Linked DNA regions of Homo sapiens. The protein of the gene in region 4 purifies or fractionates together with the protein of the main gene of each other region. This does not show direct contact. Each region holds a gene or a part of one and is shown on either strand. Other genes may lie near its edges.

Region 1 (7,309 bases), on a different chromosome or scaffold from region 4:
TAATTTTTTTTTATTATTTCTAAAGACAGGGTCTCACTATGTTGCCCAGGCTGGTCTCAAATTCCTGGGCTCAAGTGATCCTCCTGCCTCAGCCTCCCAAAGTGCTGGGATTACAAGCATGAGCCACTGTGCCCAGCCAGTCTTACTTTCTTTTTCTTTCCTTTTTCTTTCCATTTTTTTTTTTTTTTTTTGAGATGGAGTTTCACTCTTGTTGCCCAGGCTAGAGTATGATGGCACAATCTTGGCTCACTGCAATCTCCACCTCCTGGGTTCAAGCAATTCTCCTGCCTCAGCCTCCTGAGTAGCTGGGATCACAGGCGTGCACCAACACGCCTGGCTAATTTTGTATTTTTAGCAGAGACAGGGTTTCTCCACGTTGGTCAGGCTGGTCTCGAACTCCCGACCTCAGGTGATCCACCTGCCTCGGCCTCCCAAAGTGCTGGGATTACAGGTGTGAGCCACCGCACCTGGCCTCTTACTTTCAAGATGGAAATACTCTTAGGATGAAACAGCACTGTGAGTGGAAGAGGTAAGAGACAAAGAACCTGTGTACTTGATGACTGAATTTTGTTATCACACAACCTGACAGTCTCCCTTATCTCTCAATTTTCTATTATGGGAGATAATCATTTCCTTATTGTTCAAGTGAGTTTTAGTCAAGTTGTTTACAGCCAAAAGCATCCTAAGTTGCAAGTACTGAATTAATAGAAAATTCCCAATACTAAACGAAACACAGAGAATCATTTTGACTAGGTTACTCTTTGCTGAAATGGTCCCTGAAAGAGAGAAAACATTCAGATATGGAGAAAAGAGATACTTAATTAGAGAAAGGTAAAAATGTACATGATGTTTTCAGAGGCCAGTGAACGGAGGAGTCTGGCTGAAGTAGATGATTTATAAAGAAAATGAAACTAGAAAGGAAGGTAAATTCACAATAAGTAAAACCTTCAATAATTTTTCTCCAGTGGTTTTATAAAGGTGCATAATTTGGTTTCAACTTTATCTATGGTGTTTTCTTTCTTAATTACCCATGGATACATGGGTAATTTTTTACTTTTTTAGGTCCGTTAAATATTTCATTTTTAAAAGAGGTATATAATTCCAACGAAAGGCATTATTTTGGCCAACAAAGTTCATTATTATTTCCATTTATAATTGTCCAAGAATATCTTAATTAAAATTAACTGTCTAGACCAGGCACGGTGGCTCATGCCTGTAATCCCAGCACTCTGGGAGGCCCAGGCAGGTGGATCACCTGAGGTCAGGAGCTCAAGACCAGGCTGGCCATGATGGTGAAACCCTGTCTCTAAAAAAAATACAAACATTAGCCAGGCATGATGGCGCATGCCTGTAATCCCAGCTACTCGGGAAGCTGAAGCAGGAGAATTGATTGAACCTGGGAGGCGGAGGTTGCAGTGAGCCAAGATTCTGCCACTGCACTCCAGCCTGGGCGACACAGTGAGACTCCATCTCAAAATTAATTAATTAATTAATTAAAACAAAATTAACTGTCTAAAACTCAACCATTTTACTAGTTAAAAAAATAATTTGCCATTCAAAATAACATATAAACTGTGAAATTCTAATACCTCAGAAATGTACAGGTCAGCTTGTTTTAATAACTCTCCAATAATTAGAACATTTGAAGTAGTACCATCTCCTGTGACGTCATCCTGAGCTGTTGCTACTTTTGCTATCAAGGAAGCTGTTGGATGTTGAATTTGCTGGAAAAAGCAAGCAACAGATTTAAAAAGACAGGATGAGATAAGGAAGTAGGTCACCAAAAGCAAGATAACCTAGGGGTCAGTAGCAAAATTAAAAAATGAAATAAGCTTCATTCTACAAGTTTACAAGTTTTGTATTATCAATACCTAAATGTCAAGTCCAAAATTTTAAAAGTGACAGGTAATGAGGCCTGAACATTTCATAAAAGTCTTTGCTTCAGAATGCAATGACATTTCTAAAATAAGATTAAATCATTCAATCTCAAAATGAATACATGTATTAAACTTGCAAAGGATATTTTTATTTTTCCATAATTACAAAGAACATAAGGCAGTGCCCTTAAAAGATATTATTGATTTATAAGTATGCCTAAGTATACAAAGTATGTATAAGTATACAAAGACTTGGAAACAGCCAAAAAAAAAAACTTTTTTTTTTTTTTTTTTTGAGACAGGGTTTCACTCTGCCACTCAGGCTGGAGTGCAATGGCACAATCTCATTCACTGCAGCCTTGGCCTCCTGGGCTCAAGTGATCCTCTCACCTCAGCCTCCAGAGTAGCTGGGACTATAGGCGTATGTCACCACACTGAGCAAAATTTTTTTTTTTTTTTTTTTTTGTAGAGACGGTTTTCACCATGTTGCCCAGCCTGGTCTTGAACTCCTGGGCTCAAGCAATTTGGCCACCTCAGCCTCCCAAAGTGTTGGGATTACAGGAGTGAGCTACCACACCCGGCCAAAAAAATTTTTTTATTGAGGTCTAATTCAACAGTCTTCAGCATATCTCAAGACTGCAGTATTTAGCTCACAGCCTTGGCTTAAAGATACACAAGTTCTACTATGCTTCTAATTAAGGCTTATTAAGGTTTATTAAAGTCAGCAGCATCAGCTCACCATCTCATCGAGCAGCACATTGCCATCTTTGGTGAGTTTGATGTCACCTGCACCAGAAACAAGCCTGTTCAGAGAAGAATGATATTAACTTCATGTGGTAGGAAGACATTCCCAGTGCTTGCCACTCCATTATCCTTAATAGAGGGAACTGGGCTCGGAAAACTTCCACTGTACCATGGGAATATGCCATGGTAATTACCACCATTTGCAGCTCACAGAATCATTTCTCCCCAGATGGACAGATTATGGAGATTTCATTCCAAATGGACTATTTACAGGTTTAAAGATAAAAGCACTTGATGAGTTACGAACTGTGGTTTGGTCAAAGAATACTTGGAAGTCTACAAAGCACAAATTCGCAAATTTCCTGCAGGTTTTAATTTTGGTGAATGTTTTCATTCATTCAGTCACTCAACTTAGTTTCCCTCATCCCTGCATTTATTAGATCACCAAGTTCTATCAATTCTACTACCTAAATATCTCTTGAATCTGCCACCTTCTCTCCATCTCCACTGTTATCATCTCTACTTTGGATGGCATCCGGATATCTCCAAACTTAAATATACCCTCCACACATTTTTCTTTCTAAAAGGCAACGTGATTCAGTCAGTTCCCTGATCAAAAGTCCTCCAATGATTTTTATGTTTTCCATCATTTTCAAGTTAAAATCCAAACACAGCAATGACATACTTGACCTTTCCCAATATCTTCCCTGCCTCATCTACTTTTCCACAAGCAAATCTTCTGGTTCCCTTAATATACCATGTTTTGTTTCGTTTCTGTTGGATTTGCACCATTGGTCTTTCTTATTCCTGAAATTACTTTGCCCAGGCCTTTACTCCCTCTTCCAACTAGTGAAGTCTTATTCTTCTTTCAAGACTGATCAAACATGTTACTTAAGATGCTTTTCCTTCTGCCATCAGTCCCTTTCTTCAGCATAATTATATGCATCTATATATAATTAGCACATCCTACTCTACCACATCCGTCTCTACCACATCTCCTTAAGAACAGAAACCGTTATCTTGATCATTTCTGTGTCCCAACAACTGGTACCTAAGTGACTTATTTTACCATTAATATTATTTTGTTCATTACTATGAGGATGTGTCTCTCCTCTTATACCCTTTTGCCCTCACTGGTCTCTTTTCCTCACTCTTGTCTATAGAAAAGGGTGCTTAATATATACTGAAAAGATGAATAGATCTGAACAACCATAGACACGGGGTATTCAAGTAGAACTTGGATTTGACCCCATGCCTTCCTGGCTCCAAAGCCTGTGTCCTCTCCACTACAATACATTGCCATACAAAAAACAAAACTACTTGTTGAATTTATGGACCAAGGGTATACAGTCTTAAGGAGCAGAGGAGTTAAATGCTTTGTTTCCAATGAGACACTAAATTAACTGACTTTCTAACTGCATATGAACCTTGACGACAAGTCGGGGGTCGGGGAAGCGCCACAGCTTCACTCCCGGGGCCCTCTACTAGGGGAGGCTTTTCTCCTCCACCTGCACCAGGCGAGAAATACCCCCAGAGCAGGGATGAGAATGAGGGAAATCAAGCTCGCAAGAACATCCACAGCGCTACGCGGACGCCTGCCTCAGAGGGCGACAGGACACCAACGGGCCCCTAGCCGCGTAATGGCCGCTCCAACCGCTGTCTCACATTTTCATGGTGCCTTTAGGACCCAAGTTGGTCCGCAGCACATCCTGCAGCCCTCGGGCGGCGCATATATTGACAGCCAAAGCTGCCCGGGCCCGCGCCACCTCAGCCTTGGAGTTGACGGCCTTTATCGCAGCCATAGCCTAACCGTTCAGAGGGAGAAAAAAAAAAAGCCTTAGTCGCGATTCTGAGCAAAAACGGCAATGCGACGCCACGCTCTCTTGAGCCTCGGCCAATCATCGCCCTTACAGGAAGTGACGTTATCATGCCTCGCCCGACGGAAACCAGAATCGTTTTGGGTCTGGTCGCCAAGATGGCGTCCTCCGCCTCCGCCCGGACTCCGGCAGGGAAGCGAGTGATAAATCAGGAAGAATTGCGGCGGTTAATGAAGGAGAAGCAGCGTCTGAGCACCAGTCGGAAACGGATAGAATCTCCATTCGCGAAGTACAACCGTTTGGGGCAGCTGAGTTGTGCCCTGTGTAACACTCCGGTTAAGAGCGAGCTCCTGTGGCAGACTCACGTCCTGGGAAAGCAGCACCGAGAGAAAGTGGCCGAGCTGAAAGGCGCGAAGGAAGCCAGCCAGGGTTCGTCCGCCAGTTCAGCGCCTCATTCCGTCAAGAGGAAAGCGCCGGACGCAGACGACCAAGATGTCAAGAGAGCGAAGGCCACCTTGGTGCCTCAGGTACAGCCCTCCACATCTGCGTGGACCACCAACTTTGACAAAATAGGAAAGGAGTTCATTAGAGCGACTCCCAGTAAGCCTTCAGGACTCAGTTTACTCCCCGATTATGAAGATGAGGAGGAGGAGGAAGAGGAGGAGGAAGGAGATGGAGAAAGAAAAAGGGGGGACGCCAGCAAGCCGCTCTCCGACGCACAGGGCAAGGAGCACTCAGTTTCCTCTTCACGGGAGGTAACAAGTAGTGTGCTGCCAAACGATTTCTTTAGTACTAATCCTCCCAAGGCCCCCATAATTCCTCATTCAGGGTCAATTGAGAAAGCAGAAATACATGAAAAAGTGGTGGAAAGGAGAGAAAACACCGCGGAAGCGTTACCGGAAGGTTTTTTTGACGACCCTGAGGTAGATGCAAGAGTACGAAAGGTTGATGCTCCAAAAGATCAGATGGACAAAGAGTGGGACGAATTCCAAAAAGCCATGAGGCAGGTCAACACTATTTCCGAAGCCATAGTTGCCGAAGAGGATGAGGAGGGACGGTTGGACCGCCAGATTGGGGAGATCGATGAGCAGATAGAGTGTTACCGACGGGTGGAAAAGCTACGGAATCGCCAGGATGAAATAAAAAATAAACTTAAAGAAATCCTGACCATAAAAGAACTGCAGAAAAAGGAAGAAGAGAATGCTGACAGCGATGATGAGGGGGAACTACAGGATTTGTTGTCTCAGGATTGGAGGGTGAAAGGGGCATTGTTATAGGGTTTTAAAGACCCAAGGTTTCTAACAGCCTCTGCTGTTGTATAAAAAGTGCTGTCTCTCAGTAGTATAGCGGTTACTTCATGCCTCAAGATTTGGGTACCTGGATTGCTAAACTGGATTGTTGAGATAAAATGAGCCAGTGAGCTACAGCACTTTGGAAAATTTGTGTAACATGTTTTTGAGGTAAAGTTGTTTTTGAAATTTCTGAAGTGTTATATACCAAAATGCCAACATTTCCACGACAGACTTAACTGTATAATTTCGTTGTAAAATCTGTAAGTTGTAAATATTGTACATAGTTAAATCTGTATTCTGTTTTGAATTTTTTTAATTAATAGAAAGACCAACCGGCAAACTTTCAGATGAATGCTTACTGTGGTATTTGGAATGTATGTATCTTCTGAACCCTACATCAAGTTGAAAAGGTTTGTTTTCTTGTTTCTTTGGTTTTTGTATGGTTTTTTAGAACACTTCATAAACACATAAGTCATTGTAGGTTAATCAGTTCTCTTAGTGTGCTTTATTTTAAAAACATAAGAAAACTATATGCCAAACATGACCAAACCAATGATGGTCAGATGTGGTTGCACATGAGAGTCACCTATGAAGCATTAAAATAATTAAAGTGTCTGAGGCCTTCCCCTTCAATAAATCTGGGATTGGGCCCAGGCAACTGTGTTTTTTAAGCACCCAGGTTATTCTAATATATGCCAGGGTTAGAGAGTAACTGCCCTAAATCCAGAACCCATTTATGTTTTTCAGGTTTTTTCTTTTTCTTTAAATAACACATTCCATAAATTTGCTGTTTCTTGAATGAAGGAAAAAATATTATCTTTTATTTATTTCATCCAGCCTTAAATTTTGTTATTTGGTGGTAAATTAGGGTTCCTTGTTTGCAGGTCCTATCTATTGTAGAAAGAATATTTAAGTTGTCTTTCCAGCAGTAACAATTGGCTCTTGCTGGTCATTGATAGTTTAAATCACTCCTTCCTTTAGAGATTGAGGTACTCAAATAGGAAAAGGGAATTAGCAGTGTTCTGGAGTTGAAATGCATACAGCATATTCAAATAAAAGTGAGCAATAATAATAATAGCTAAGACCTATATATTTCTTAGTATGGGCCAGGCATGGTTCTAAGTGCTTTACATATATTAACTCAATCTAGTTTCCCTAAAGTCTTTTTTTATGGAGAGGAGTACCAAGAGACAAGGTTTGAAAAGCCTTGAATGCTAAGTGAAAATTTTTGATGAAGTTCATATGAAAATGGAGGTTTTGAGCAAAGAATTACATCTGCAAAGAAGTATCATGGGACATTATTAACAGTATATAGAATGGAATGAACACGGAGGGTAGAAGGAAGCTAGGAGCTATTTGAAAACTATATTTTCAAAAGCAAGGTGACAAGACTGATTAGCTGAGGATTGGGAGAAAAGGAATAGAAGTGAAAGCATGTCATAGGAATAGCTAAATTCTTTTGTTGTTTGTTTTTTTTGTTTGTTTGTTTTGAGACGGAGTCTCGGTCTGTCGCCCAGTCTGGAGTGCAGTGGCGGAAACTCGGCTCACTGCAAGCTCCACCTCCCAGGTTCACGCCGTT
Region 2 (7,129 bases), on a different chromosome or scaffold from region 4:
CCTGGACAGGCACGTACTCACCCTGGCCTTCTGCTTCTCAGCCTGCAGCTGCGCGTCGATCTCCTCAGGGCTTGTATACTGCCTCGCCCGGCCTTTGTGGCCTCCCTTTCTTCCTGCAGAGACCCGCAGTTTAGGTGAGCGGAAGCAGCTGCCTTGACTGCTCTGACCCCCAGAGGGCTGTGTCCTGCTTGGAGTACTCTCATCGGAGGCCTCACCTACCCCTCACCCAGCACCACCCAAACCGACACCTCCGCCACCCTCATGTGTTCAAAGGCACGCAGGAAGCAACTCGTGACCATCTGATGCATCACCAAACTGTGTACTAAATGCTGGCTCCTACACAGAAGACCGGAGGGGAGAACATGGCGGACGGTGCACTGCAATGACTTGCTACATCCCCTGGTCCCTTACAATCCAAGCATAGTGGACTCAGATGCAACCACAGAAACATGTACCACTTACATCCCTGCCGTCACTATAAGGGCTTTTTACACGATGTTCTGTCACAGCCAGGGGCACTTTTTTTTTTTTTTTTTTGAGACGGAGTCTCGCTCTGTCACCCAAGCTGGAGTGCAGTGGCGCAATCTCGGCTCACCGCAACCTCCACCACCCTGGTTGAAGTGATTCTCCTGCCTCAGCCTCCCGAGTAGCTGGGACTACAGGCGTGCACCACTATGCCCAGCTTATTTATTTATTTTTAGTAGAGATGGGGTTTAACCATGTTGGTTGGCTAGAATGGTCTTGATCTCTTGACCTCGTGATCTGCCCACCTCAGCCTCCCAAAGTGCTGGGATTACAGGTGTGAGCCACCGCGCCCAGCCAGCCAGGGGCACAGTTGATCCTCGGAACAAACCTATGGTACAGGGGTGATAGCTGGTCCCATTTCATAGACCAGGAGACTTAGACCAAAGCAGACTGCGAAACACCACGAAGTTTAGAGTCCAACTCCCAGGTTCTACGCTTACTGGCTTGATGACTTTGGGCAGGTATTTAACCTCTCAGTCTCAGTTTCCTCATCTGTGTCCCTACCTTACAGGGTTGTCACAAAGATAGATGAATTAATCAATATACAGAAAGCTGCTGGAACAGTGCCTGCTACTGAATAAGCACTACAAAAATGTTCGCTAATATCCAGGCACAGTGGCTGATGCCTGTAATCCCAGCACTTTGGGAGGCCAAGGCGGGCAGATCACTTGAGGCCAGTTCAAGACCAGCCTGGTCAACATGGTGAAACCCCCTCACTACTAAAAATACAAAAATTAGCTGGGCATGGTGTCACATGTTTGTAATCCCAGCTACTTGGGAGGCTGAGAAAGGAGAATCGCTTGAACCCAGGAGGCAGAGGTTGCAGTAGCCGAGATTGAGCCACTGCACTCCAGCCTGGGCCACAGAGCGAGACTCCGTCTCAAAAAAATAAAAAAATCGCTGTTCGTTACTTTTCCCTCTAATCTAGTATTTGGTGGAAAAACAACAACAAAAGCACCACTGAGCACATAAGCAATTTACTGCAGATGTTGGAAACACAATAAAATACCTTGTGTTCACCTTAGTAGTATGGCAAAAAGAGAATACTTAAGGGAAAAAAAAGAAACCCAAACCTACAGGCAAAAACTTTGTGCTTAGACTAAGAAATGACTGGCAAAGTACAGATGAAAACAAACCTGACTACACAGTCTAAAAGTTAAAAATGTGACTAGCAGTTAAAGTGTCAGTTTTATAGTCTGACCCTCTTCAGCCAGAACACCAGGCTGACCCTTGCTTAAGCCATCAGCCAGTTTTAAAGCAAGGTGGCATCCCCCTCTGCTGGTCCCCAAGTATGCAAGGGTGGCTGTGGCCTCAACTTCCACACAGGAAGCTGAGGCCCACCTGATTTCCATAGTCTGTCTCTGTGAGCAGAGACTCTGTAATCAGCCAGAGTTGCTCTGCACTCCAGAGGCGGTAGCAGAGATACTGGCCTCCTCTGATTCCTTACAGCAGCTGCAAAGCCATAATTGGGCTGCTAAAGATCACACCACCCATTTTTAATGACTACCTAGGTTCCCAGGGGTGTCTAAGTCTATGCTTATTAAAGTCCTATTGTGAGAGAGCAAGTGTGCCAAGAAAAAAACCAACACCCTTTCTTGCTCTCTTAATACACCAGGCAACAGTAACAACTCAAAATTGATTACTATAGGCTCTCCTCTCATGCACTTGGCTATGGGACCCTGACCTTAGCTTGGTCCACAGTAATTTTATAGTAGACTCTTCAAGACTTTAAAAAACGATTTGCACTTAACATAATGGAAACAAGCGTTGGTCCTTTGCTCTTAGGGAGTTTGATACTTTTAACACCTTCACGGTTTTTTGTGGTTTTCAGATTAACCCAAGAAAATGTAAACCTTGTCTACCCCAAAAAGCTTTTCACAAGCCCAAAGACCATTTAGCTATGAATTCATATTTAAGGTTTTATCGTTGTAACCTCCAACCTTTACCCAAAGTATCCATTAAGTAAAACTTCGGAGGGAGGATGGCTCATTCAGCAACCTCCTTTTACAGATGAAGGGACTGGGGAACAATAGCAGAGAGACTTTTCCAGCCACAGAATAAATCAGTAGAGAGCTAGGTTTAAACACATTTAGCTCTGTAATGCCCAATTATCTCTGGAGTCAGGAAGCGATTTAGGTTTGAAAACGCTACAGGCAGATGTTTCTGTGGGTTGAGTGCATTAACCAATATAACACATGAGCTACCAACACAAATATATTTGTTCTGTGCCAGGAGGTGGCCAGGCACTTTATGAGCGCTATAATTTTACCACCCCGGCCCCAATTCAACAAGCTAAGGATTAGCCCAGTGTTTCAGATGAGGAAGAGGTTAACTTGTTCAGGGCCACAGAATTAGACGTGACATAGCTGGGATTCAAACTGGGGACTATCGATTCTAAAGGGGGAAACAGGATAGAGAACGGGCTAGAAGATAGAGGACGGGCTACAATGGACTGGGCAGTCATGAACCTACTTACAAGATCAAGAGCTGGCAAAGCCTTAAAAATAAGAATAGTTACTGCTTCACTGGGCACTTTTAACGACTGCCTGGCACTGTACTGCGCACTCCACGTGGATTACCTAGTTGAAGCCTCCCAACAGTACTAAGAGGTAGGTACAATCGTTATTCCCATTGGCAAATGAGAAAACGGAGACACAGGAGGTGGAGCGACTGGCTCAAAGGAACACACCGAGCCGCTACCGAACGGGGGAGTCGAAACCAGGTCTGGAAGGCTCATGGGCATCTCCTTAAGTCCTCCTAGGCAGGCCTGGCTGAACCGAAGCCAGAAAAAGCCCACGTTTTACGCGAGAGGCAGGCGGGCCCGGCACAAGCGCGGGACGCGGTGACTCAGTTCCTAGCCAGCCAAAGAGTGGGATAAATTCCAGAACCCCTAGACCCGGAGAAGCGCATCCTAGATCCGGCTTTCTAGGCCGGCGAGGACCCAGAGCTTCCGAAACTCCTCAGACCACTGACGGAGTGACTCTGGGACACCACAGTCCTCAGTTTCCCCATCGGGACAATTGGGCGTCGAGGCCCAGGCCTGGCTCTCAGCCGGTGCGGACAGCCTCCCTCTGCGCTGCTCTCAGAGACGCGCACGGGCTGAGGGGACAGCGGAAGCCGGACCTGGGCCGCCCCTCCAGGCCTGCGGGCCACCGGCGCCCGCCCCTCACCTCCTTTAGGCATTGCGGCTCCGGCGGCTGCGGCGGCGGCGGCGGCGCCTCGAACTGACACCGGAACCGGAAATAGCTTGGGCTCGACTTCTTCCTCCTGGGCCAGCCGCCGCCGCCGCTTCAGTGGCCGCAGTGGCCGCAAGGACCCGGACCTCAGGGAGGCCTCCGCACGAAGTCGGACCGTCCTGCGCGCCGCCTAAGTCCAGGCTTGCCCGTCTGCTGCCAGGCAACAACGCCCCTAGTCTCTCCGTTCGGGAAGACGCGTGGCCCTGCCTGCCACCCACCGGAAGTGAGGGCAAATGGCAACAGCGGCTCTGGAATTCTATACAGGCATTGCTGAGGACACCTAAGATGACGCAATCTCCGCGCGGGTAGGGCGGGGCTCCGCAAGGACCTCATGCCTTAGAGATCGCCTGAAGAGCGGAAGCCTTCTGTCGAGAAGCAGCTACCCAAGCTCCAGGAGCTTCCGGTATGTGTTTTCCCTCTGTTCTCGATTACCTTGGCAACGGCTGAGGCGGGAGACCGGTGGTCTGCACCGTCCTGGAGGGAGATATGAGTGGCTGGACTCTCAGCCAGCCACTGGGATGTGTTCGGGCTTTGGACCTTGAGGCCGGAGAGAGCTCCCGAGAGGAGGCGGCGCCACGTTCGTTCTTCTGAGGGGACGGTAGATTTGGGGGTTTTCCTCTAGGATTCTCGCGCCGTTTCCTCTGGTAGGAACGTCTTCTGTGTTCTGATTGTTTTTCTAAGCTGGGTTCAGATGCTGTCCTTTTTATGAGTTTTCCCTACAATCCTGCACTATCTTCCTTCGCTCCTCCTCGCCTCCTTCCCCTAGCGCCCCAATCTCTCTTACACCTCCCGGCACATCTTTCTTCTCGATCTGATTACCTCCTACGTCCTCTTTCTCCTCGATCTGGTTACCGCCTACCATTTTCACCTCCGAGAGGCCTCTTCTGACTTCCAGGCTGGATCAGGGCCCTCGAATTTCCCTGGGTCGTAGAAAAGCGATCATTCTCTTGTCACAGACTATGCGCCTTGGGGCCGAGACCAGAATTCACCTATTTTTAGCTTCAGCGTAGGGGAGACTAGTGCGAAGACCACTGATTTGGGAGTCAGGAGCCCTCCAGAGTCAGGTTTTGCAAATTCTCAGCTGTGTGACCCTGATTCTACCTTATAGAGTTTGATTCCTCCTCTATATGGTTGTTTTAGAGAGTTCATGAGAGGAGGCTCTGTGGGCGGGGGGGGGGTGGGTCTTTGTAAAGTGTCAGTACAGAAGGGAGTGACTGAATGAATTTGAGAGAGATGAATCTGTTATGCTGAAAGGTAAATACTTAACCTGGGTTCTCTCTGGCAGCAAGGAAATGCTGTGTGGTTTGAAAAACGCTTTGCTATTTAGATTGGGATCGGCCTCTTGTATGGGAACTACCTGACTTTATGTAATATGTTGTTTGGTGTGAAAGAGACCTTGGCAATCAGCCAATCCACTGCCCTCATTTTACAGAAGAAACAGGACCAGAGAGGGAAGGTGACCTGAAAGTCACAGAATAATTTTTTAGAGCTGAACAAGAATCCAAGCCTGCAACTGCAGAGACGAGAGATCTTTCTGCTGTCTATACTCTTGGAAAGCACATCCTAAGGTACTTTGATTTTACAGTCATCTTTCCCTTTTTATTTTATGTTTTGTTTTGTTTTGTTTGTTATTGAGACATGGTCTCACTCCGTCACTTAGGCTGGAGTGCAGTAGTGTGAACATGGCTAACTGAAGACTTTCAACCTCCTGGGCTCAAGTGATCCTCTTGCCTCAGCCTTCCGTGTAGCTCAGACCACAGGCACCCACCACCATGCTCAGTTAATTTTTTTGATTTTTTTTTTTTTTTGGTAGAGATAGGGTTTCACCTCATTGCTCAGACTGGTCTCAAATTCCTGGGCTCAAGTGATCCTCCCATCTCAGCCTCCCAAGGTGCTGGCCAAGACCAGAATTACAGGCATGAGCCACCGTGCCTGACCTTCCATCTTTGCCTTTTTAAATACTCACCCCCATGGCTCCCCGAGTCACAGCCCTCCTTATACTCTATTGTAATTGCTTTTTCTCTTGTCTGTCTCTTTGCTAAAATGTCACCTTCTAAGGGGCAAAGGCTTAACTTTTGTTCTGTGTTCCCAACATCCAGTATAGGGTTAAGCTTTTAGTTGAAGTTAGCTAATGACAACAGCAAATGTCTCTTAGGCACACATTATACACCAGGCATGATAGATACAATTCTAATGAAGTCTTTGCAATGACCACATAAGGTAGCTTCCATTATCCCCATTTTACAGATGAGGAAACAGAGGCTTAGGAAGGTTAAGTACCTTTCTGAAGATCACAGCGGGTAAGTAGCAGAGCCAGGATTTGAACACAGTCTGGGTGCTGAGCCCTGTCCCATAGCTGTGACCCTATGCTGACTCAAGGAAGTCAGCCTGTACCGAAATAATGGCTGGCAAAGGCCTTTGGGGATTTGAGACTCAGAAACCAATTCATTTTTTTCCCCCAGATCTTTGCAGATTATCCTGTGGAAGGAAAATGCCTAAAGTCAAAAGAAGCCGGAAAGCACCCCCAGATGGCTGGGAGTTGATTGAGCCAACACTGGATGAATTAGATCAAAAGATGAGAGAAGGTGAGTAGGGGAGTTCCTGTCTGGGTGGGCTGGGTCCAAGGGTCACAGGCTTAGATGCCCCCAGGGGACAGGCATAAATGCAAATATAAAAAGAGAGTGGTCTACTAACACTGACATGTTGTGTTTGCTTATGAACTTGGGGAAATACTGTAAGTGCCCGAAAATAAGATAACATTAATGAAAAGGTCCTCAGAAAAGGTGTTTTTTTTTGTTTTTGTTTTTGCCAACTCGAATATAAAAGGTTATGAAATATAGATCAAATAGTCTACCTATAGTTATTTACTATTTTGGTTAGATATATATTTAAAATCATACAAAATATATTTACTTGGAAGTGCTATTCCTTTTCAGTATCATCGATTAGTCTTTGCCGCATCTGTTTTCTGTCACTTCCTTGTAAATGGCGTGTGATCCTGCTTTGTGAACCCGTGTCCTATGCTGTCTTTGGAAATTTTATCTGAAGCCACAAGCATCTGTTGGCCTTATATGATCACAGTGTGGCCACTTACCAATTGACTTTTTTATTTTTATTTTTTGAGTTGGAGTCTTGCTCTGTCTTCCAGGCTGCAGTGCAGTGGCGTGATCTCGGCTCACTGCAACCTCTGCCTCCCGTGTTCAAGTGATTTTCCTGCCTCTCAGCCTCTCGAGTAATTTGGATTACAGGCATGCGCCACCATGCCCGGCTAATTTTTGTATTTTTAGTAGAGATGGGTTTCTCCATGTTGGCCAGGCTGGTCTCGAACTCCTGGCCTCAAGTGATCCACCCACCTCGGCCTCCCAAAG
Region 3 (7,456 bases), about 15 Mb from region 4:
GGTGCAGTGGATCACGCTTGTAATCCTAGCACTTTGGGAGGCTGAGGCAGGTGGATCACCTGAGGTCAGAAGTTCAAGACCAGGCTGGCCAACATGGTGAAACCCCGTCTCTACTAAAAATACAAAAATTAGCGAGGCATGGTGGTGCACACCTGTAATCCTAGCTACTCGGGAGGCTGAGGCAGGAGATTCACTTGAACCCAGGAGGCAGAGGTTGCAGTCAGCTGAGATTGCACTACTGCACTACAGCCTGGGTGACAGAGCGAGACTCCATCTCAAAAAAAAAAAAAAAAATTACGTCACATGATGTGAAAGACACTCTTTCTTTTTTTTTTTTGAGACAGAGTCTCACTCTGTCACCCAAGCTGGAGTACAGTGGAGCCATCTCAGCTCATTTCAACTTTCGCCTCTGGGGTTCAAACAATTCTCATGCCTCAGCCTCCCGAGTAGCTGGGGTTACAAGCGTGTGCCACAATGCCTGGCTTATTTTTTTGTATTTTTGGTAGAAACGTGGTTTTGCAGTTTGGCCAGGCTGGTCTCAAACTCCTGGCCTCAAGTGATCTGCCCGCCTGGACCTCCCAAAGTGCTGGGATTACAGGCATGTGCCACCACACCAGGCCTCAATTATCTTTTAATCCTAATTCAAGAAAAAAGCCTCAATTTGGGTTAGAGGATTTAAAACCTATCTTAATGCCTCTAATGCTTTCCAAGTTCCCCTCCTTTTAAATATTTTCACAGTTTGCATTGACAAATGAAAAATGAAAGGAATTTTCCATTTGAAGTATCATTGAAGAGTCTTTTTTTTTTTTTGGAGCTGGGGTAGCAGGGAGAAGAGTCTATTTTTAAATAAACTTAATTGCATAAAGCAAAATGAGTGTATCGTCTTAAGGAAAACTTGAGTTAGACATTCCTTAGGTCATAAGCTGGTGGCAGTTTGTCCAGGAAGCCCCGCCTCCTAATTTCCAGACATGTGTTCCTTACACAATCACTCTAAATATTTAAGCATGTCTTTTTAATTGTTTATTAGATTAACTTTCCCTCGGCAAAGAGAGATACTCCTCCCAACTACCATCCCTAGTATATTCTTGGCCCTGGAAAAGCCCTGCAATTAAAGACGCCAAGAACATACCTACGGTCAACAAAGTTGAGTCTGTTGCACAGAAGAGAGCAAACCACGGGGAACCGTGGGCATTTGAGTGACAGGGTGTTAGGAAGGGCTTGTTCCAGGATTTGGGTTTGTATCAGGTGACTGAGGGGAGGGTTAAGGATGTGGATTGGGTACTGTCAGAAAGCAGGGGCTTTCTACAATTAGGTATCTTAGATTTTTTTTTTTTTTTTTTTTGAGATGGAGTCTCGCTCTGTCGCCCAGGCTGGAGTGCAGTGGTGTGATCTCGACTCACTGTAAGCTCCGACTCTCGGGCTCATGCCATTCTCCTGCCTCAGCCTCCCGTGTAGCCCGCCAGCACGCCCGGCTAATTTTTTCTATTTTTAGTAGAGACGGGGTTTCACCGTGTTAGCCAGGATGGTCTTGATCTCCTGACCTTGTGATCCGCCCTCCTCGGCCTCCCAAAGTGCTGGGATTACAGGCGTGAGCCACCGCACCCGGCCCAGTATCTTACATTTTTATATAGGAGGCAGAAGTAACGGAGTGAGACTAATGCTGTATTTGTTAATAACAGTCACTGGTGTTAGTCAGAAGAAAGAAATATGTGGTCATTCTTGTAATTTGAAAAGTCTTCTTTGTTTTGTCTCACTACAACAGTCAGAGTGATTTTGGGATTTTGTGAAACCATGGCCTAGCTGTCAGGTCACTCCATGGTGAAACAGGGGCTGCTTTTCTCTTTCTCTGCTCCAACTGCAGCAAGCTATTTGCTGGACTCTTATCCCTAATACAAATTCTCTTTCTTTGAATTTGTTCCCTTTGCTTGGATATCTCTTTCTCTAACTCCTTTAGTTGTCTGGCTTTCAAACAGTAGTTTAGGTGTCACCTACTACATGAGGCACCCCCTGGAGACCCACAAACTGCATTCCTCTCTCCTCCTCTGCACCTCCAGGGCACTTAAACATCAGATTCCCTATCAACTGGCTGAACTACCACACTGTAGACTTTCAAAAGTTTGCCATTTTTTTTATTTTCTTTTTATTCTTTTCCCCCAGAAGTCCCAAAAACAGATGATTATTTTCTTTTCACTCAAACAGATTCTGACAGAAGATTATTATTTTTTAAAGTGAACCAGGTCTCTTACTGACACTAGACAAGTTTCTTCCTGTCTCTAGCTCTACATATTTCCCTAGGTAAAATGAAGAATTTGTTGGAATCACGGAGCAGGGAGGTTGTTAGTAATGGAGACTCCCAAACCTAACCCAGATACATTAAATTGGATGTGGGTGGGAGAGGGGCTGGAGTGAACAGTTATATTTTCAAATGTTCTCAGAATGATCCCAATGTGCTGCCAGGGTTGAGTACCACCGAACAGAGCTTTCCTCTCAGATGATCCTGCTCTGTTGGTCTGTCAGACGCAGTGGTGTGGCTTCCTCGTCCCCTCTACAAAAGCGCACAGGCTTGGCCAGATGACGGATCTAAGCCGGCCTCCAAGACTACTCACCCGCATCAGGTGCAGCTCCCGGAATTTGCGCAGTCTCTGTTCGCGCTTCTGAGCGGCCAGCTCCGCCGCCGCAGCGAGGGACCCCTCCTCCGCGCTGTCCACCAGCACCTGCGACAAGGAGAACTGGCTTCAGGCAGAGCCGGCTCAGCTTCTCCCAGGACTGCCCAGGCCGAGTCCCCGCCGGTCCCCACAGGCTGGGCCTAGGGCCTCCACCGCCGACTTGACCCCACAGTGTCTGAGCCTCCCTGAAGCGAAACTAGACTTCGCCTCCACCTCTCTCCAGGCCGCTCCCCGGAACCCTCACCAACAAAACCCCCGGTGTACGGTGGGTGGAACTCACCTCGGATGCAGCTATAGCCGCCATCACAACCTTTCTCTCTTCCCACTTCCGGCAACAAGATAGAGCACTTCCGTCAACCTTCAGACAAACGGGCCGATACGTACGAATGGGCTACCATAAGCCCCGCCCCTTCCGGGAGGTCTCCGGAAGTTGGGACCCTTTTAGCTATGAAATATTTTGGATTGCGTAGGGTCTTGCGCAGCCGCGAAAAGTAGCGTGGGCCAGGACAGCGGGAGGTAAGTCGCCAAGAAAAGGGTTGGGAAGAGCTCAGAATCGGACGGCTAGGAAGAAATGACCAAAAGGAGCCTGATAGCCCCCTATTCTGCACGCTGTTCCTGGAAACCGCCTTTGCAAAGACAGTGAGAGAAATCTAACATGGCTCACTCCATCTTGCTTCTAGCCTCGCAGGCCGGCTGTCTTCGCTCATTCCTGGGCATAAACCAAGCTAACCATGGGAGAATTTATAGTTTAACTTTTAAGCAAGGATGATCATAGTCCCTTCCTTAAACAGGGCCCCTCCTTGTTTGGGGGCTGAAACTGCCTTTATAAAACTAATGAAAGACCGGGAGGTTAGGATTATGAGGGGAGAATTCTGCTAAAATGTAGTAAACGATAACCAGCCATTGTTTCGGAGGACATCGGATGTGTAACTTCCCCAATTATTCCTGTAGATAACGTTATCGTAGCACCTAAGATTGGTCTTTTGAGGCATTTTTCAGACTTTCGCATTCTGGCAACTAACTGACCCCACCCAGACTCGTGACCCATGACCCAACCGCTTCTTCTGTCCCACTCCTCCCCCAAGAGGCGGACTCAGCTGTTGAGGAGTGTAGTCCACACCCCTGTGATTGCATCTCCAACCAATCAGCAGCATCCATTCCCTAGTGCCCTGCCCACACCAAACTATGAAATACCCTAACCTCTGAGCTGACCCTTCAGGAAAACTTACTTGAGTGGTAACCCTTCTTCCCTGAGGCCAGCCTCAGGTTAATACAACTGTATACTGCAGTAGCACTTTTCAGTGAATTGGTTTTGTCTGCAGTAAGCAGGAAAAACCTGCAGTGCCATTCATTCCCATGAGTGGAAAGTTCTTTCCATTTAGAGCTTAAGGTGTTGTCACTTTCTCCAAGAAGCAGGTCTTGCCCTTGGCCTGGTGTGGTGGTTCATGGCTGCAATCCCAGCACATTGCGGGGCGGAGGCGGGAGGATTGCTTGAGCCCAGGAGTTCAAGACCAGCCTGGACAACAAAGTAAGAATCAGTCTCTAAATTAAAAAATAAAAGTAATTTTTTTTTGTTTTTTTGTTTTGAGACAGAGTCTTGCACTATCACCCAGGCTGGAGTGCAGTGGCACCGATCTCGGCTTACTGCAACGTCCGGCTCCCGGGTTCAGACGATTCTCCTGCCTCAGCTTCCCGAGTAGCTGGGATTACGGGTGCCTGCCACCATGCCCAGCTAATTTTTGTATTTTTAGTAGAGATAGGGTTTCACCATGTTGGCCAGGCTGGTCTCGAACTCCTGACCTCATGATCTGCCCACCTCAGCCTCCCAAAGTGCCGGGATTACAGGCATGAGCCACTGTGCCTGGCCATAAAAATAAATTTTTAAAAATAGAAGCAGGTCTTCCCTGACTACCCTGTCTCACTTTTAGTACTGTCATTTGACACTATTTTAATTCTCTCCAATTGCATAAGTTTTATTTTTGTCTGTTGATTTTCTATTTTTCTCATCAGCGTTATTACTGGAGAACAGCAGAGTCCACCCATCTTGTTTACTCTTACATGCTCAGCAGAGAGGCAATGCCAGAATTACTAACAGTGCTAAAGTTACTAAGATAAGTAAGGTGCTGGATATAAGAGGAATATATGAAAATTATTTTTTTCTGCACTAACAACTACTAGTTAGATACAGAAATGAAAAAGTAGGCCAGGTGCAGTGGCTCATGCCTGTAATCTCAGTACTTTGGGAGGCCGAGGCGGGCAGATCACGAGGTCAGGAGATCAAGACCATCCTGGCTAACACGGTGAAACCCCATCTCTACTAAAAATACAAAAAATTAGCCGGGCGTGGTGGCGAGCGCCTGTAGTCCCAGCTACTCAGGAGGCTGAGGCAGGAGAATGGCGGGAATCCGGCAGGCAGAGCTTGCAGTGAGCCGAGATTGCGCCACTGCACTCCAGCCTGGGCAACAGAGCGAGACTCTGTCTCAAAAAACCAAAAAAAAAAAGAAAAGTAATCCCTAAAATGAAAAGATACCTAGGTACAAAATTTAAATGGTAACATAAAAATAAAAGATAATTTGAAGTAAATTAAATCTGAATAAATGGTGGATAACCTATTTTCTGGTTGGAAGACTTAATATTATAAAAACAATATCACAAAGGAGTATCGCAAATGAGTTTATAAATGTCATGTTATTCCCATCAGAACCTCAGTGGGTCATTGTTTTTGTTTTTTGGAACTGGAAAATAATGTGGCAAAAATCTTAGAAGTTCAATAACACATTGTGTTGATGAGACCGAAGAAAAATGAATCCTACACATATTGCTGGTAGGACTAAAAATTGATTGAACCCCTAGGGAAGACAATTTGGCAATATCTGTAAAAATTAAGGCATTTACTCTTTGACTCAGCTATCATAATTCTGGGAATTTATGTTACAGATACAATTACACATTGAAAGGAAAATAAATCTTGGGGCCCCAAAATCACTAAGCCAAAGGGAAAAGTCAAGCTGGGAACTGCTTAGGGCAAACCTATCTCCCATTCTATACCTGAAAAAGCCACTAAGATAAAAAAGCTACCTACCTTCCTCACAGGGAATGTCCTTGTGGACAAAGGACAGAGAGAGGCAGGCGGATCACCTGAGGTCAGGAATTCAAGACCAGCCTGGCCTACACGGTGAAACCCCGTCTCTACTAAAAATACAAAAATTAGCCGGGCATGGTGGTGCGCAGCTGTATTCCCAGCTACTAAGGAGGCTGAGGTGGGAGAACTGCTAGAACCTGGGAGGCAGAGGTTGCAGTGAGCCAAGATCGCTCCACTGCACTCCAGCCTGGGCAACAAAGGGAGACTCCATCTCAAAAAAAAAAAGCCATCATCTGTTTTGGGGGTGTAATAAGATATATGTACTTCTGAACCATGTAAGTATTTCGGCCGGGCGCCTTGGCTCACACATGTAATCCCAGCACTTTGTAAGGCCGAGGCAGGCAGATCACCTGAGGTCAGGAGTTCGAGGCCAGCCTGGTCAACATGGCAAAACCCCGTCTCTACAAAAAATAAAAAAATAAAAAAATTTAGCCTGGCGTGGTGGCGGGCACCTGTAATTCCAGCTACTCTGGAGGCTGAGGCAGGAGAATTGCTTGAACCGGGGAGGTGGAGGTTGCAGTAAGCCGAGATCACGCCATTGCACTCCAGCCTGGGCAACAAGAGTGAAACTCCGTCTCAAAAAATAAATAAAAAATAAGTGTGTCAATTCTAAAATTAAAAAAAATTTAAAAGTTTGCATGGAAAAACTAAGAATAGTCAACAGTATTTCTGAATAAAAAATAGAATCGCGGCTGGGCGCGGTGGTTCACACCTGTAATCCCAGCACTTTGGGAGGCCAAGGCGGGTGGATCACGAGGTCAGGAGATCAAGACTATCCTGGCTAACATGGTGAAACCTCGTCTCTACTAAAAAATTAGCTGGGCATGGTGGCGGGCGCCTGTAGTCCCAGCTACTCAGGAGGCTGAGGCAGGAGAATGGCGTGAACCCGGGAGGCGGAGCTTGCAGTGAGCCCAGATTGTGCCACTGCACTCCTGGGAGACACAGATTCCGTCTCAAAAAAAAAAAAAAAAAAACCACACAATTACATGTGGTTTTGTGCCTCTTGGATTTCAGTTATTGGGGAAGAGTAGTGCTTACATCCTTCTTATTTTACTGTTATTAAGAATCCTGGCTGGCACGGTGGCTCAAGCCTGTAATCCCAGCACTTTGGGAGGCCAAGGCAGGAGAATCCTTTGAGCGCAGGAGTCCAAGACCAGCCCTGGCAACATAGCGAGACCTCATCTCTACGCATGGTAGCCTGCCCCCGTAGTCCCAGCTACTCGAGAGGCTGAGGTGAGAGGATTGCTTGAGCCTGGGAGGTCAAGGCTGCAGTGAGCCCTGATCACACCACTGCACTTCAGCCTGGGTGACAGAGCGAGACCCTGTCTTGAAAAAAAAAAAAAAAAATCCTATTCCTGCCAGTAAAATTGGGCTCTATATTACCAATTTGTTTATATTGCAAATTAAAATCTGCAAGTCTGGACTTAAAAAAATGGAAATGTTTGTAATTAACTAAAGTTTCTGGAAGTGATAAGCAGTATAGAAAGGAAAGATGTGTGGTAAAAATTGCTCAACTGATTTTGTAAGGATTTATTAAGAGTATTCACAGGATTTTCAACATTGCTTTTCTGTGCAATATGATAATTTGTGTGATTTTTAAAAACTGGGCTGGCTACAGTGGCTCACGCCTGTAATCCCAGCACTTTGG
Region 4 (7,023 bases):
CCAGCTCTGCCAAACCACCCTGTGTGACCTTTGGCAGTCACGCCAATAAAGCCTCAGTTTACCTGTGCAGGGTTCCAGTGTGCATTCAATAACATCTGTGAACACCCAGGAGGAACACTGGGAGAGGAGTCCACACCCAATGGCTCCAAACCTGCTGAGCTTTCAGAACTGCCCACTGGCCTCCACCTCCCCAGAGTATCAGGGAGGAACAGAGTGACAAGGTTGTCACAGGAGTCTGTCCTTTTATGGGAGGCTGGCTGTGCTTTTTCTACACACTCTCTCCTGGTTCTCGTCCAAGCACTGAAGTCAGTGCTATCATCCCCAGCTTCATAGATGCCTGCCTAACACCTGTGACTGACCTCTGATGGCCATTATTTGCACTCAGAGAAGGGGCTGTGCTTTGAGGGAGGGTCTCTTTTGGAAGCTCCATAGGGGTGAGGGGTAACCATGTAGTATATCCCAGCTACATGGAGCCTGAACTCAGTCAACTGTAGCAGCTGGAGCTCACAAAGTCCAGTCGGCACATGGGAGCCAGAGGTAGGGCAGAATGCCACCATCCCTCAGCAAGAGCTATCCTAGGGTCATGAGGACCACCTAGCCTCTCCTGCCTCCTGGCTCATCCAGATCTCAATCCAAGATGCAAAAGCTCAGCTCAGTGGATTCTGAATGGTCTGAGTGACCCAACCCACAGGAGGTGTCCAACAGCTACAGGACTCAGTCCCTGCTAAAAGCCTTCAGCAGATGAGATTCTTTATAACCGCCTGGCTGACCAGCATCTGGAGGGGGAGTGGAGAGAAGCCAGCTCCAAGAAGTGGCTGCACACAGGAGAGCCAGACTGTGAGCTCAGCAGGGGGTGGGACCATTTGTTCTCTTCAGTGGCTGGCAATCCTGTTTTGTAAAGGCTCAGATAGTAAGTATTTTAGGCCTTGGGACTGTGATGGTCTATTTTGTGTGTCAATTTGGCTAGGCCATGGTATCCAGTTTTTAGTCAAACACTAGTCTAGATGTTGCTGTGATGATGGTTTCTTTTTTTCAAGACAGGGTCTCCCTCTTGTCACCCAGGCTGGAGTACAGTGGCATGACCATGGCTGACTGCAGCCTCAACCTCCCAGGTTCAAGCGATCCTCCCACCTCAGCCTTCTGAGTAGCTGGGACTATAGGTGTGCACTACCATACCTGGCTTTTTTTTCTCCCCCTAGAGATGGGGGTCTCTACATTGCCCAGGCTGGTCTTGAACTCCTGGGCTCAAGTGATCCTCCTGCCTCAGCCTCCCAATAGTGGTGGAATTATAGGCATGAGCCACCATGCCTGGCCTATTTTTTAGATGGATTAATATTTAAGTCAGTAGAGAGTAAAGCAGATTACCCTCCATAATGTGGGTAGGCCTCATCCAATCAGTTGAAATTCTTAAGAGAAAAAAGACTGAGATCACTGGAGGAAGAATTCTGCTTCCAAACTGCCTCAGAGCTGAACTGCAACATCAGTTTTTTTCCTGAGTCTCCAGCCTGCTGGTCTGTTGTGCAGATTGCAGACTTGCCAGCTCCTACCACTGCTTGAGCCAGTTCCTTAAAATAAATCTCTTTCTACATATATACACACCCTATTGGTTCTGCTTCTCTAGAAAACCCTAATACAGGGACCATAGCCTGTATTGTGTCTATAGCCCCTTACGCACCTCTGCCACTGCAGTAAGAAACCACCATGGACAATATGTAAATAAATGGACGTGGCTGTGTTCCAATAAAACCTGATTCATAAAAACAGGCAGTGGGCTGGATTAGGCACATGTAGTTTGTTGGCTTCCTGTCTCCTGACAAATAGGCATAGTACTTGGCACAGAGAAGGCACTTTGAGTTATAAAAATTTCATTTTTTAAAATCTGTAGGGTGAAAGTGAACAAATAAACAAATGAACCACTGAGAGTACACTTGCTGGCTGTAAGGCCGGCAGCTGGGTTTAGGAGCAGAGGCAGCAGAAGACCGGAGCTTTCCAGTCTTTAATTTCCGTTGCCCTGACATCGATGCCTGGTGTGAAGATACATCACCTGACATCTAAGGGGATCGGCCCAAGGGAGGAAATGAAAGCTGTGAAAAAGATGCTCTGCTCTCCCCACTCACCAGCCTGCCTCAGAGGTCCAGCTTAGCCACAGACACAATCTCTGACAACTCCCAAGAACTAGCAGGAAGAGCAATATAAGAACTAGGGTTTATTTTAGCAAAGAAAACACGTAAGAGCCACACTGGTAGTCCCAGGAGAGGCCCAGCAGCAAATGCTGAGAAAAGCCAGTGGCTTTTTGCACAGCCTGCCCATGGTGGAGGGGAGCACCTGAGCTGGCTCCTGGGCCCACAGCTGTGCCTGGGAATAGTCCAGGCTGTGCCTGCAGAGGAGCTGCTCCAAGCAGACCCTGAGGAAGGGCACATATCCCAAATGCTGCTTGCTTCAAACAGGCACCCTCGGTGCTGCCTCCTCTGAGGCTGGCAGTTCCTTCCTGGATATGCAGGGTCAAGAGCGGAGGGGGAAGCAGAGAGAGTGCCGCCTCACACGTACTCCCCACAGTCGGCGATGATCACCTTCTGCTTTGGCTTCCCGTCCTTGCTGCCCTGGGCCTTTGTGGCAGAATAGAAGTGAGGGAGTAAGGCCGGAGACTAACAGTGGTTTAGGGATACCAACCCCTGCCTGCCCATTTGCCCACTTCCACCCCGGAACCTGGGCAGCAGCAGCCCCTCCCGCTGGACACAGCCCCTGGCCATCTCTCTCAGGCCACAGAGACTCTCCAGCCCTCACACAGGGCTGTGCTCCTAGGGCCTGGGTAAGGAGGAGGCCCATTCCTGGCCACATACCTCAATTTGCCGCAAGACATCTAGGCCTTCGGTGACCTCTCCAAACACCACATGCTTGCCATCCAGCCAGTCTGTCTTGTCACATGTCAGGAAGAACTGAGAGCCATTGGTGTTTGGGCCAGAGTTGGCCATGGATAGTAGACCTGAGGGAGAGAACAACCATCAGCTCCCCGAACCCTGGCTACCAGCCCTTAAAGGACGTCTGTGCAGGCTGTTGACAGCCCTTCAGCCAGTCAGGCTCAGACTCGGGGATGCACAGATCACATGCAAATGCGGCCACCTTATCTTGGATTCAGTTAATAGTCAGTGAAATGGTAAGTGAGGTGTTTCAATCACTTTATACTGGTCTGTTCTTTCATTAATTCATTTATTTAACAATTAAGTGTCTACTTGACAACCAGGTCCCTGTTAAGCCCTGGGAACACTGATGAGCAGAACATAGTCCAAGCTCTGGTGGAGCTCACAATCAGTGGAAAAGAGCCATTCAAAATGACAGCTATGACACAGTGAGGCCTGGTAACATGGACATTTGTCACGTAAGAGAATGTACATGTATATGTGTGTGTCTGTGTGTGTATGTGTACATGTATGTATGTGTGTGTGTGTCCACAATGACTCCTAAGTTTCTGATCAAGCGGCTAAGTGGATGGTGGAGTCATTTATTGAAACAGGGAAGAGGAGGAGGAAGAGTTTAGGGGAGAAGGCCAAGAGCTGTTTTAGACATGTAAAGTGTGAGATGCTCGTGGGATATCCAGTGAAGACAACAGGCAGGCAGTTGGACAGGAGTCTGGAGCTCAGGGAGCCATCAGCATGCAGATGCCAGTCTGCACAAACTTAACTCAGAGATACCGCTGAAAGCCCTGGGACCGGGTGTGACTGCTTAGGGCACTGCTTCTCAGTGGGGTTGGTGTCCTGTCCCTAGGAAACCTTTGGAAATCTGAATTTACTTTTTTTGAGATGGGGATCACTCTGTCACCCAGGCTGAGTACAGGAGTGCATCACAGCTCACTGTAGCCTCAATCTCTGGGGCACAAGCAATCCTCTCACCTCAACTCCCAAGCGGCTGAGACTACAGGCGTGCACCACCACACCTGGATAATTTTTTTATTCTTTTTTCAGTAGATATAGGGTCTCACTATGTTGCCCAGGCTGGTCTCGAACTCCTGAACTCACGTGATCCTCTGGCTTTGGGCTGCCACTTCAGACTCCCAAAGTGTTGGGATTACAGGCATGAGCCGCCGTGCCTGGCCTGAAAGTGTTTTTGACTGTCTGAAATATTGTGGGGGTGCTACTGGCATTTAGCAGGTGGGGGCCTGGAATGCTAGATGTTCTGCAATGTCTGGCACAATGAATTGTCTCATATCCTCTTGGCCCTTACAAACATCCTGCTAGAGGCTGGGCGCAGTGGCTAATGCTTGTAATCCCAGCACTCTGGGAGGCTGAAGTGGGAGGATCACTTGAAGCTAAGAGTTCCAGACTAGCCTGAGCAATATAATGAAACCCTGTCTCTACAAAAAACTTAAAAATTAGCCTGGCATTATGGATGGCGTGCACCTATAATCCCAGCTATTTGGGAGGCTGAGGCAGGACTGCTTGAGCTGGAGAGGTTGAGGCTGCAGTGAGCCGTCTTGCACCACTGCACTCCAGCCTGAGCAACAGAAAGAGACCCTGTCTCAAAAAAACAAAAACCAAACAACAACAAAACAACAAATATCCTGCCAGATATTGGTATAGGTAAAAAATGTGTTTACAGTTATCTGCACCTAAAACATAATTCCATTATACATATAAGCCCAAAGTTTTGGAGTGCTTTTGATTTTCCATGGAATCTTCTAGGAATGTAACTACTATGTAAATAAACAGATTATTCTTTACTTTGGACTCTAATCAACTTTATCTACCATTTCACAAAGCCGTATCACCAATAGCATCACTCCTAGTGGTATCCAGTTGACACTCCCGTCTGCATTTCTAACTGCTGCGTTTGAGTACAGGGGCAGACGCCTGAATAATTCACTTTGTGTTCTGACACAGCTGTGCTTAAGCATGTACATCTGGAAACATATTCGAGTATTATACAAATTCGTTTATTTCCTCTGATGTTCTTCCCTATTATAGTTACAGATGAATACTGATTTTTAAAATAACGATGTGGGTCAGTGGGCTATATCACCTACACATGTCAGTTCAGTATAGTAAAGAGGGGCCCTACAAACCACCAGTTAGAAAAACGGAGCACAGGGTAACAGGCTTCTGGAGAACCAAAGAATGGGCTCTGAGCCACTTCAGTGTTTAAGGGTCAGGAAAAGAAGGAGACAGCAAAGACAGAAAAAGCAGCCATCTAGGTAAAAGGAGACAAGAAGAGGCAGGAGTCCTGCCAGCCAAGTGAAGAAGGAGTCAAGGAGAACAGAGTTAGTACAGGCTGAGCATCCCAAATGTGAAAATCCAAAATCCAAAATGCCCCAAAATCTGAAACTTCACGAGCACTGATATGATACTCAAAGGAACTGCTCACTCGAGCATTTCAGATTTGAGATATTCAGATTTGGGATGCTCAACTGGTAAGTATAATGCAAATATTCCAAAATACAAAATACTTCTGGTCCCAAGCATTTCAGGAAAGGGACACTCAACCTGTAGTATGAAATGCTCCTGGGAGGTGGGATAACATCTGGGAGGTGGGATAAGATGATCGCCAAGAACTGGCTACTCGTATTTTTGGCAAGAGTGGTTTCAATGGCGAGATGGGACTAGAAGTCTGCCTAGAAGGGATTAGAGAAAACGCGAAGGCAGCAAGTCTGTACCATGTTTTCAAGAAGTTATGCTTTTACTTCTTGAAAAAAGATGGGGGACCAGGGGCATGGGTGATAGCTGGAGAGGGAACAAGAGTACAAGGATGAAGTTTGTTTTTTTTTTTCCGAGACGGAGTTTCGCTCTTGTTGCCCAGGCTGGAGTGCAATGGTGCGATCTTGGCTCATCACAACCTCCGCCTCCCAGGTTCAAGTGATTCTCCTGCCTCAGCCTTCCGAGCAGCTAGGATTACAGGCACGCGCCACCACGCCCGGCTAATTTTATATTTTTAGTAGAGATGGGGTTTCTCCATGTTAGTTAGGCTGGCCTCCAACTCCTGACCTCAGGTGATCCGCCTGCCTCTGCCTCCCAAAATGCTGGGATTACAGGACTAAGCCACTGCACCCGGCAACCGGATGAAGATTTTTTTTAAAGGTTGATAACTGCATGCTTTCATGCTAATGGACTGATCTAGCAGAGCAGGGGAAATGGATTACAAGAAGGGGACAACTTTAGAAGCCATGTTCCTAAGTAGAGGAGAGGGACAGGATCCAGTCCACAGGTGGAGAGGCTGGCCTAGGAGAGACAGCTCATCCCCTGTAATTGGAAGAAAGAGCATGCACGAGTGGAGAGATGCAGGAGGTGAAGCATTAGATGAGGTGGGAAGGTGATGATATGAGGGCTTCAGAAGTGAAGACGGGCATGGACACATCATCTCCGGTTGGGACTGAGCATCAAGTAGGGAAATCTGGTCAGGTTGGCAAGGGTCCCCTTAAGAACTATAGTTATAAATTTCAAGTGGGATTGTTCAGTACAATTCTGTGTTTTTTCTCTAGTTGCTGGGGGACTAACCACCGAGATTTTACTGAGTAAATCTGATGGTGAGGGCAGGGAGAGCAGTGGGGTTGAGAGCATAAGAGCCTGCAACAGCAGACCACAGAATCCAAGCGGGGCTAATAGGAATTGTGGACACGGTTGGGGGATGAACAGTACCTGAATGTCAACAAGCCAACTCCACCCTAGCAAGGCTGCATGGTTCTCCTATGTCTGGTGGCTGGGTCTCCTCCAGACTCTTAGTGTCCGCCAGCCAGAACTACAACCTGTCCTTCCATCCTGCCTGGCCATCCCACCCTTGCCCAGCCTCCCTCGTCACCACATGCCAACTGGCTCCTACCTGGTCCCGTATGCTTGAGGATAAAGTTTTCATCATCGAACTTCTTCCCATAGATGGACTTGCCCCCAGTGCCATTGTGGTTTGTGAAATCACCGCCCTGGCACATGAACTGGGGGATGATGCGGTGGAAGCTGCTTCCCTTAAAGCCAAAGCCCTTTTCATGAGTGCACAGGCAGCGGAAATTCTCTGGAATTGAGAAAGGAAAAAGCGCTGGGGTTA

Evidence for each region.
Region 1: the proteins of PPIE (region 4) and ZNF830 purify together in Homo sapiens (affinity purification with mass spectrometry; 5 studies listed by BioGRID and IntAct, with this or other methods). This does not show direct contact.
Region 2: the proteins of PPIE (region 4) and BUD31 purify together in Homo sapiens (affinity purification with mass spectrometry; 4 studies listed by BioGRID and IntAct, with this or other methods). This does not show direct contact.
Region 3: the proteins of PPIE (region 4) and SYF2 purify together in Homo sapiens (affinity purification with mass spectrometry; 4 studies listed by BioGRID and IntAct, with this or other methods). This does not show direct contact.

What each region holds. Positions count from the first base shown.
Region 1 is NC_000017.11:34,956,971-34,964,279, forward strand, and holds ZNF830 (zinc finger protein 830), read left to right. Parts: upstream 1-4,569; 5' UTR 4,570-4,596; coding exon 4,597-5,715; 3' UTR 5,716-6,807; downstream 6,808-7,309. Other genes in the region: CCT6B (T-complex protein 1 subunit zeta-2), read right to left, coding at 1,590-1,724, 2,617-2,680, 4,287-4,423.
Region 2 is NC_000007.14:99,404,841-99,411,969, forward strand, and holds the start of BUD31 (protein BUD31 homolog), read left to right. Parts: upstream 1-4,128; 5' UTR 4,129-4,405; exon of another isoform or gene 4,406-4,424; intron 4,425-5,193; 5' UTR 5,194-5,329; intron 5,330-6,223; 5' UTR 6,224-6,252; coding exon 6,253-6,346; intron 6,347-7,104; exon of another isoform or gene 7,105-7,129. Other genes in the region: PDAP1 (28 kDa heat- and acid-stable phosphoprotein), read right to left, coding at 22-113, 3,696-3,708. UniProt on the Homo sapiens protein: Involved in the pre-mRNA splicing process. May play a role as regulator of AR transcriptional activity; may increase AR transcriptional activity.
Region 3 is NC_000001.11:25,229,498-25,236,953, forward strand, and holds the start of SYF2 (pre-mRNA-splicing factor SYF2), read right to left. Parts: upstream 3,006-7,456; 5' UTR 2,971-3,005; coding exon 2,947-2,970; intron 2,715-2,946; coding exon 2,607-2,714; intron 1-2,606. UniProt on the Homo sapiens protein: Involved in pre-mRNA splicing as component of the spliceosome.
Region 4 is NC_000001.11:39,748,870-39,755,892, reverse strand, and holds part of PPIE (peptidyl-prolyl cis-trans isomerase E), read right to left. Parts: intron 6,991-7,023; coding exon 6,805-6,990; intron 2,984-6,804; coding exon 2,841-2,983; intron 2,607-2,840; coding exon 2,538-2,606; 3' UTR 1-2,537. UniProt on the Homo sapiens protein: Involved in pre-mRNA splicing as component of the spliceosome. Combines RNA-binding and PPIase activities.